Linked DNA regions of Homo sapiens. Changing the gene in region 3 together with the main gene of any one other region gives a genetic interaction. Each region holds a gene or a part of one and is shown on either strand. Other genes may lie near its edges. The genes, in order: MTPAP, MRPL46 and SKIC8.

Evidence for each region.
Region 1: changes in SKIC8 (region 3) and MTPAP together harm fitness less than expected from each alone (positive genetic interaction), as found in Homo sapiens cells (one large-scale study listed by BioGRID).
Region 2: changes in SKIC8 (region 3) and MRPL46 together harm fitness less than expected from each alone (positive genetic interaction), as found in Homo sapiens cells (one large-scale study listed by BioGRID).

The regions. Positions count from the first base shown.
Region 1 is NC_000010.11:30,332,136-30,335,790, forward strand, and holds part of MTPAP (poly(A) RNA polymerase, mitochondrial precursor), read right to left. Parts: intron 1-3,655. UniProt on the Homo sapiens protein: Polymerase that creates the 3' poly(A) tail of mitochondrial transcripts. Can use all four nucleotides, but has higher activity with ATP and UTP (in vitro). Plays a role in replication-dependent histone mRNA degradation.
Region 2 is NC_000015.10:88,458,978-88,461,838, reverse strand, and holds the end of MRPL46 (large ribosomal subunit protein mL46), read left to right. Parts: intron 1-1,975; coding exon 1,976-2,226; 3' UTR 2,227-2,361; downstream 2,362-2,861.
Region 3 is NC_000015.10:78,293,022-78,296,676, forward strand, and holds part of SKIC8 (superkiller complex protein 8), read right to left. Parts: intron 2,773-3,655; exon of another isoform or gene 2,705-2,772; 5' UTR 2,666-2,704; coding exon 2,654-2,665; intron 1,953-2,653; coding exon 1,925-1,952; intron 252-1,924; coding exon 146-251; intron 1-145. UniProt on the Homo sapiens protein: Component of the PAF1 complex (PAF1C) which has multiple functions during transcription by RNA polymerase II and is implicated in regulation of development and maintenance of embryonic stem cell pluripotency.

The DNA.
Region 1 (3,655 bases), on a different chromosome or scaffold from region 3:
CTTGTATTTTTTATTGTATTTTATTTTTAATATTTTTACTAGCAAAGCTATTATAATCTTGAACAAAAACATATTTCCAAAAAATCCTTAAATAAGCACATGTATGTTTATAACAACACTTTCCTAATTTAAACTGACACAGGAAATGCCAAGTTCTGGTTATTTCTGTGTATGTATGACAGAGTCTTGCTATTTCGCCCAGGCTGGAGTGAGGTGGCGTGATCTCGGCTCACTGCAACCTCTGCCTCACCGGGTTCAAGCAATTCTCCTGCCTCAGCCTTCTGAGTAGCTGGGATTATAGGCTCCCACCACCACGCCCAGCTAATTTTTGTATTTTTAGTAGAGACGGGGTTTCACTACATTGGCCAGGCTGGTCTCGAACTCCTGACCTCAAGTGATCCACCCGACTTGGCCTCCCAAAGTGGTAGGATTACAGGCTTGAGCCACTGTGCCCGGCCCAAAATGCCTAATTGTTTAGTAAGACTGGAGCACTGTCTTTAAAACATCTTTTTCTAAATACCTCTATACCTCAGAAATCTAAGAGTAAGACTCAACTAAAAGTTTCTAGGCCAGGTGCAGTGGCTCACACCTATAATCTCAGCACTTTGGGAGGCTGAGGCAGGAGGATCGTTAGCCCAGGTGTTCGAGACTATCCTGGGTACCGTGGTGAAACAACGAGTCAATAAGAAAACAAAAATTAAAATGGCCGGGCGCAGTGGCTCATGCCTGTAATCCCAGCACTTTGGGAGGCAGAGGCAGGCAGATCACGAGGTCAGGAGATCGAGACCATCCTGGCTAACACGGTGAAACTCCATCTCTACTAAAAATACAAAAAATTAGCTGGGCGTGGTGGCGGGCGCCTGTAGTCCCAGCTACTCGGGAGGCTGAGGCAGGAGAATAGTGTGAACCCGGGAGGCGGAGCTTGCAGTGAGCCGAGATGGCACCGCTGCACTCCAGCCTGGGAGACAGAGCAAGACTCTGTCTCAAAAAAAAATAAATTAATTAATTAAAAATAAATTTAAAAAAAAGAAGAAAGTTTCTAACTCCTGCCTGTTTCCACCAAAGAAAAAATTTTGCCTCCCACTTACATAAGAGTAAAATTATATTGCTGTTGATGGTGGTCAACATTTCAACACTTACTCTGTGCCATAAGCACTGTTCTAAATGTTTCACACATATTAACTCAATAAATCCTCTCAAACATTGTATGAGATATGTGCTATAACACCATTCCAATTTTATAGTTAGGACAATTGAGGCAGAGAGAAGGTAAATAACTTACCTAGGATCACATTACTAGTAAGTAGAATTAAAATTCTGCAGCTTGATGCCAGAGCCCAGGCTTTTTAAACCATTACAACACACTGTTATGCTCCTTGATTATTCAGTTACAATCCTTTATTTAAGACAGCCTAATGTAATTTAAGTGCCACTGCCAGGAACTTAATATATTTTCAAGTACATGTTAGTCTTAATAAAACTGATCCAGGCCGGATGCGGTGGCTTACGCTTGTAATCCCTATAATCGTAGCACTTGGGGAGGCCGAGGTGGGTGGATCACCTGAACTCAGGAGTTCGAGACCACCCTGGGCAACATGATGAAACACTATCTCTAAAATAATTAGCCGGAAGCAGCAGTGTAAGCCTGAAGTCTCAATCACACGGGTGAGGCAGGAGAATTGCTTGAGCCCAGGAGGCAGAGGTTACAGTGAGCTGAGATCATACCACTGCACTCTAGCCTGGGCAAAAGAGTGAGACCTCATCTCAAAATAGTAATAATAATAATTATTATTATAATAAAACTGACCCATTTAATTTTTATCTGTTTCCTATGCCTGGCTAGCTTCAATTCAATAAGCATATGGTGAGCAAATTAAGTACACAGTACTGTGGAATAAGTATATGAACAGACATGATTCCTATCTGCCCAAGTTTATTATATAGTGGGAGATACATACATCAGCTACTCACTAAACATGACAGAAGAAATTTGGAGACAGATAGAAATACCTGCAAGATACTACAAAAAAGGAGTGGTTAATTTTGGCTGGAGTGGAGAAAAAAATCAAGAGCGGTTTCAAGAAGGTAGAATTAGAACTAGACCTTGAAAGCTGCATTAGGAATGAGTCGAGGAATGGAGGGAAAGTGCACTCCTGAGTGAAGGCACAGAACAACTGTTTGATCATTATGATATTTACAAGTGCCTTCTATTACTGGAAATGGTAATTAAACAATGTGGTTGGGGCCGGGCATGGTGGCTCAAGCCTGTAATCCCAGCACTTCGGGAGGCCAAGGTGTGTGGATCACCTGAGGTCAGGAGTTCCAGACCAGCCTGGCCAAAATGGCGAAATCCCATCTCTATTAAAAACACAAAAATTAGCCGGGCGTGGTGGGGCGTGCCTGAAGTCCCAGCTACACAGGAGGCTGAGGCAGGAGAATCACTTGAACCCAGGAGGCAGAGGCTGCAGCGGGCCAAGATCATGCCACTGCACTCCAGCCTGGGTGACCGAGTGAAGCTCCGTCTTAAAAAAAGAAAAATAAAAACAATGTAGTTGGAAAATTGGGTATGTAACAATATATAATGGGAAATGATGACTAAAATTAATTAAGACACAGAGGATTTCAATACTATGCTAAAGAAAAGAAGCATTCTAACTTTGTGGGAAAATTCAAACTGTGAGTGAAGGTAACTCCAACAAAGACTGAAGGTTAAAATATCAAGGCATGACACAAGGAATAAGAAGTGGAAACAGAATGTAGTTACAATAATCTAAGTGAGAGTTTATAAGGGACTGTGAAACTATGAATACAAAAGATAACAACTTAGAAGCAGAATTAAAAGAATGGTTAGCAAAGCTAAAATGCCACTAATTAACATGTGAAACATATAGAACTTTTGTAAGAACTTAGAAAGAACATTTGTGGGAAGATGAATATAAGTTGTCTCAAAATATTGTTTGAAATATCAACTGGACATCCACATAAAGTCTGATGTTCACTACTAGTTTGAAAGATGTAAGGAAAGATACAGCCATAGAAACTAAACATTTTATAAAAACACATAGCCTTGGCCGCGTGTGGTGACTCACGCCTGTAATCCCAGCACTTTTGGGAGGCTGAGGTGGATGGATCACCTGAGGTCAGGAGTTCAAGACCAGCCTGACCAATACGTGAAACCCTGTCTCTACTAAAACAAAAAAATTAGCCGGGCATGGTGGCCCCTGCCTGCAGTCCCAGCTACTTGGGAGGCTGAGACAGGAGAATTGTTTGAACTTGGAAGGCGGAAGTTGCTGTGAGCCTAGATCACGTCACCGTACTTCAGCCTAGGCAACAGAGCAAGAGACTCTATCTCCAACAAAAAAATAAAAATAAAAATAAATAGCCTTTTCAACACTGTAATTAAATTAAGACATCATTTATATTGTTTGGGAGGATGGAAGAGACACTGGTTAATTTTACCATTAGACATCGTGTTAAAGAGAACATAAATGGAAGAAATAATATCCAAACTTGAAAGAGAAAAAAAGGGTAAGGAGGAAAGTGCAGGAATAAAGCAGGAGTAATCCAATAAAAGGAAGAAAGAAAGTGAAAAGCTGCTGGGAAGTGGCCCATGCCTGTAATCCCAGCACTTTAGGAGGCCGAGGGGTGTGGATCA
Region 2 (2,861 bases), about 10 Mb from region 3:
ACTGCAGTTTGTTTAGCCAGTCTGTTTTTACAAACAAAGCTGCAGTGAATATCCTTGTATGCTCATCTTTGCTCACATGGGCAAATTAGTATATCTGGTAGGATAAAAGTCTAGAACTGGAGTTGCTAGGTCAAAGGGCATGTGCAATTAAGTTGACACCTCTTGCCAATTAATAGCACTTATACTAATTTATAACCCCTCCAAAATATGTGTGAAAGTACAGGTTTTTTCCTTATCCTTCATAAGCAGAGTACAGTTAAGTTTTTGAACTTCAATAATGATATATGTTGTTGTTTAACTTTATTTCTTTAAATTATTAATAAGTTTGAACACCTTTTAATGTATTTATGGGCCAGTGATATTTATTTTCATGTGAGCTTAACTGTTCATGTGCTTGGTTCATTTTTCTTTTTAATTTGTTGTTTTTTTTCCTCATTGATTTTTTTTCCTTTAGAGATGGAATCTTGCTATGTTGCCCAGGCTGGCCTTAAACTCCTATTCTCAAGCAGTACTCCTGCCTCAGCTTCCTGAGTATCTGCATTGATTTTTAAGTGCTTCTTATACCTTAAGATATTCCTTTGTTGAACGTGTTGAAAATATTTTTCCTAGTTTGTCATTTTGTCTTTGACTTTTTTTGTGCTTCATTTTTCCTTGCAGAAAGATTTAATTTTTATGTAGACAAATATAAATCTTTTGTTTTTTGGGCTTAAAAATTTTGTTTCTTGCTTAGAAAGGCCTTGCCCTCTCAAATAATATCTTAAGGTTTAAGAAAGCATCCTGCATTTTCTTCTAATGCTCATGTGTTTTTATTGTAATTAGAAAATATGCCCTGCACTTTGGGAGGCCGAGGTAGGCGGATCACTTGAGGCCACAAGTTCAAGACCAGCCTGACCAACATGGCAAAACCCCGTCTGTACTAAAAATACAGAAAAAAAATTAGCTGAGTGTGGTGGCACATGCCTGTAATCCCAGCTACTCAGGAGGCTGAGGCATGAGAATCCTTTGAACCCAGGAGCCTGAGGTGGTAGTGAACCAAGATTGCACGACTGCACTCCAGCCTGGGTGACAAAGCGAGACTCTGTCTTGGGAAAAAAAAAATACAGAGAAGATTGGAAAATATTAAATGTCCATGAAACAACCATCCAGAATGAATAAATTTTTTATGAAAAGTTAAAATGTCTATTGTTAAATCTTTGATCTATATGGTATCAATTTTATTGTGAGGACTGAGTATGGAATCCAGCTTGGTTTTTCCCATCTGGCTAATCAGTTCTTCAGATGCCGTTTAGTAATTAGTCCATCATTTCCCCATCATTTGAAATGCTGAATTGGGGTTGTTAACCCTTAGTTATAGATTACAGATACTGTCTACTCATCTGTTTTTGTCTTTAACTTGGTTTATGCCTTTTTTCACTAGGTAGGAGTTAAAACTGGGGTCCTTTTTAATGCTTTCCAGGTGACACCCATTTTAAAGGTGGATGAACTTTGTTTTACAGACCAAATGTCCTCGTCCTTCACCAGCAGATAGCGACTGGGCTGATTCACCAACAGTTAGCGACTGGGCTGATTCGCCAACAGATAGCGACTGGGCTGATTCGCCAGCAGATAGCGACTGGGCTGATTCGCCAGCATAGCGACTGGGCTGATTCGCCAGCAGATAGCGACTGGGCTGAATGTAGGAACTAGGTGCTCTGACTCCCAGGTGTGATTGTAACTGTGTTGCTGACTTTCAGTCTAAAAACAGTAGCTTGGCACATGGGAGTGAGCCTGGTGAATCTGGACTCCATGGGCCAGGAGGCATTTGGATTGAGAGGGGAGGAGCCTCTTTTCAGGAATGGCTCTAGTCCTATTCCTAGGGATTGATTTTACCTCAGGGCCAGATCTTGCAGGGACCCCCTATAATTTTGGGAGCCAGAGTAAACAGATGGCTGTATCCTTACCTTCCAATTGTGATTTTTCTTTCCTCCCTCTTCAGAAAACAACATGGAAGCCAAGTTCCTAGGAAATGCACCCTGTGGGCACTACACATTCAAGTTCCCCCAGGCAATGCGGACAGAGAGTAACCTCGGAGCCAAGGTGTTCTTCTTCAAAGCACTGCTATTAACTGGAGACTTTTCCCAGGCTGGGAATAAGGGCCATCATGTGTGGGTCACTAAGGATGAGCTGGGTGACTATTTGAAACCAAAATACCTGGCCCAAGTTAGGAGGTTTGTTTCAGACCTCTGATGGGCCGAGCTGCCTGTGGACGGTGCTCAGACAAGTCTGGGATTAGAGCCTCAAGGACATTGTGTGATTGCCTCACATTTGCAGGTAATATCAAGCAGCAAACTAAATTCTGAGAAATAAACGAGTCTATTACTGTGTTGGTCTCAGCTGATTTGCCCTTTGATGGCCCAGTGAAGAGAGCCATCTCTTAGGGTGTCTTTCCATTTTTTTCCCAAGGTGATCACTGAGTACTGGATTATATTACAGTGCGTCACTGAGTTACTGGGCCCAGGAAGAAAGGACAGAAGGAAATGAATTGACTTCCCGAAAGCCTTGAATTCTGTGAAAGCTTCTCTAGGCCCTTGGGAAAAAACTAGTTCTATATAGTTTCTTAGCCATTTCCAGTTTGTTTTTCCTTCCCTCTGCACTTGATATGAAGGTGTTTTAATCTAGCCTGGGAAATAATCCTTCCTTCTTTCCCCCCCTTCCTAAAAGCATTTTATTTTAAAAAGAATTGAGTTATGTCTTAACCTTTTTTGAAACAGTCATGTGAAATGTGCAGTTAGTTTATCTCCATTCTACAGATGGAGGAATCACGGCCAGGTTGTGACTTAGCCCAGAGTCATACTGCATGTGCCTGTTGGTGCTAGAGGAGA
Region 3 (3,655 bases):
AAAATAAGCTGCTGTTTTATACCACCATATTGCTATTGCTTTCTTGCCTAGAAAAAAGTATTTCCCGGACTGCAACTGGAGAGTTCAGAAGCAAAACCTCAGCCCCCAATTTTCCAAGGCTGTATGTTAGGGGAGAGGCACTCACCATTTCCAGACCTTCACCAGGTCATCTAGGGAGCCTGTGACCACTGTCTCAGAGTTTTCCTTCTTGTTTGTCCCCCAAGCAACTGACCAAATGGCATCATCATGGGCTAGAATGGAAAGTGCTTCATTTATAAAGTCTTCTTGCATACGACTTAATGAAGCCGAGATACTGTTCAACAATTGTGAGGTAACATTTATTTGTATTTGCTTTACTATTTTACAAAGTGCTTTCCTATACAGCTTTTATTGAAATTTTGGGGCCACATATGAAAATTGGAGGTTCTGAAGAAGCTACTTGCCCTAAATCTCATGTTTACCAGGCGACAAGGTAGTACTTCGGACTCTAAATCCAGTGTCCTTTCTTTTAGCATGCTATCTGGTATATAGGAGTCTACAATGGCTATCACTTGGCTAAAAACAAGTAAAACCAGTGGGGAAGACCCCCTCCTACCAAGAAAAGGCCTAAACCCGGTAACAGATACTCCGAAAAGATCTTTCGAAACAAGCAGGCAGTTCAATTCTAAACAGTATAGATCTAAAAGAAAATACCTACTATAGCCTCCATATATTAAGTTGCCTTTCCCCACAAGTATCTTTATTATGGTTAATGGGCCAATTATTACATTACAACAATCCTATGAAGTGGGTACTATTAATATCCTCATTTTATAGACAAGGAATGAGAGGTGCTAGGATTCAAATCCAATCTCTATTAATTAAAGTCTACCTTAAGTCTAAGTCTGTAAGCTGCATATTTGGTAGGCCATGCTGTTGTATGTGCAGACCCAGTGTGGATGTAAAAACGTGACAAGTGCACATGGAGGCTTTACCCCTGCCTGGCAACAATTCTCCAGCGATACCTTCCCAAAATATGAATATAAAGGCATTAAACTTAAAACAGCTGTGCACCACAGACAGCGTTGTGGCTTCCATTTCAAACCTCACCTAACTCAAGCCTGCTAACTTGCCACCTGGATGACAATAGCTACATATAAGGTAGTTGACTGGCATGCCCAATTAGCCTACTAGTTACTTACACTAGCTAACCTGAATGATGCTTTTGGCTTAAACGTCAAACTACCTCCATGTCACCTACTTAGAGAGCAAGAGCTTTTATTAGGCATTCCACAAATTCCTTAGGCCTTCTCAAACTCATCGAGGCTATAGTGAAGAAATGAGATGGGTGAGTAGCCCATGCACAAACATGGCTCCTTTTTGGGTACAAAGCTCTGTACCACTGGTCAGTTACAATCCCAGCCCACTCTGACCTGCCACCTGCTCTCCCATCCCTGCCACTGCCACTGCTGCACAGCTCCCAGCCCTCCCCATGCACTCGGTGGCCTCAAGAGAAACTCATTTCACTATTATAGGCTTCACTTTCATTAAGGGCCAAAGCAAGTTCTGAGTTCAGAAAAAGGCTCACGTTCACCTCCCCAGATGAGCCGGCATTAACAGAGTTTTGAGCCTCAAAGCATTTCCTTCTTCCACCTCAGCAGCTGGGAAGCTCCATCATGTCTTCCTCAGGTGGAAAAATTTTCCTCAGCCTAGAATTCCCCAACCTATCATGATGACTGCTTTTTTTTTTTAGCTGGTTGTTCAGGTTTTTGTTGTTGTTGTTGTTGTTGTCTGTTTTTTAAGAGTATTTGTTTTCAGCTGCCAATTCTTCTGCAAAGTGAGTATACTTGAAAACTGCATGTCTGGTCAGCATGACAAAAGTCTTAAACCAGGGACAACACAGTTTTTTTCACAGATGAATTGCTTAAACAGGCAGGCTACTTACCTTGCTCTTGTTTGAAGAGAATACCGTACTAAAAAAGAACAGAAGCCACATTAAACCCATGGTCAGATTTCAGATGTCTCACATTGCCTCCAGAAAGCACTCCTCCCCGAGTAGACAGAGTCACCACAGTGTTAGTTACTTCCTCTGCTGTCAACCTGGCCATCCCGCAAGCTCCTTGATTCCCATTCATGCAAGATTTGTACAGTCATATCAGAAAAAAATTCTTAAAGAAACTGACATTCTCCCCTCCTTCCTACTACCCAAACTCACTCAACAAGAGACCAATAAATTATGTTTTCTTTTTCTGTTCTGATCACCAAGGAAGCTCAAAGTCCAGTTTGTAGCTTAAATTTTGCAGCTGCAATAAGAACACACAGCCTGCCTAACCGTCTATTAACTTTGTCCCTAATCTTATTACAAAGATATGTTTCTCCTGTTCTATCTCCTATTCTGATCTTTTTTTTTTTTTTTTTGTACAACATCTTTTAAGCTTCTTCTATTACTCACTAAATTGTGGTAAAGACTTGGATGAACCAATCCTCCTCTCAGTATTTGCATTTCACTAGTCCCACCTAACACTGTGGTGACTAGGTACCCAGGGTCACCCAGCTCTTTAGGAGCCAGGCAAGAATGAGATGCTAGTTTCTTGACTACACATCCAGAAAACCTACTGGACTTGAACTTGGCAAAGAGACCAATTGATGTTTTTCCCTTCAACACAGGTCTTACCTGGTTGGTCATTTCCTTAACCAAGGATCAAGGACAAAAGGCCAGACAGCTCTGTGGAAACAACACCAGGATTTCAGTGAGGGGGTGTCATCAGGATAGAAGGCACACAGGAAGTTCCCCTTGACCAAGAAAATAAGGCAACTCTTTATTATGAAGTTGTTCTGACACCCTTCTATGGATCAGTCCCTGGAACCTCCTTCGCACTCCCTACCAGGTGGTATGGTCTTCTTTCTTCCTCTGAACCTAGGGACTCAACTAACAGCTAATTCTATCCCATGGTTTCTTCACCTCAAGTGTGACTGCAGAGAGCGACCAGTCTCTGTCCTTTCCTGCTCTTTAGAGAGAAAAAAACCACAGCTCCTTTTAATATTAAATATTATTTATTAAAAACAAACAAACAAACATGGGGGAATCCAAAGATGGCAAAGTTCTTATTTTACATGCAAAAGTCTCAACCAAAAATGCCTTTAAGAGCCAACAGGCAGGTAAATAAGGGCAGAAGCTGGAGGGAGACACGTGTCAAGAGATTGAGAACATCCTGGCTGACATGGTGAAACCACGTCTCTAATAAAAATACAAAAATTAGCTGGGTGTAGTGGCGCACACCTGTAATCCCAGCTACTCAGGAGGCTGAGGCAGGAGAATCACTTGAACCTAGGCAGCGGAGGTTGCAGTGAGCTGAAATTGTGCCACTGAACTCCAGCCTGGGTGACAGAGCGAGACTCCATCTTAAAAAATAAAAATAAAAAATAAAAAAAAAAGGATAGATCTAATTTCTCAGGCTACATTAAGGGCTAATGGTTCTTATTTCTTTGTGTGTGCCAAAGACCCCCTTTGGCGGACTTTTTTTTTTCGAGATAGGGTCTTGCTCCATCACCCAGACTGGAGTGCAGTGGCACAATCATGGTCAATGCAGCTTCAACCTCCCAGGCCAAGTCTTGCTCCCACCTCAGCCCGAGTGGCTGGGACTACAGGTGCGTGCCAACATGTCTGGATATTTTA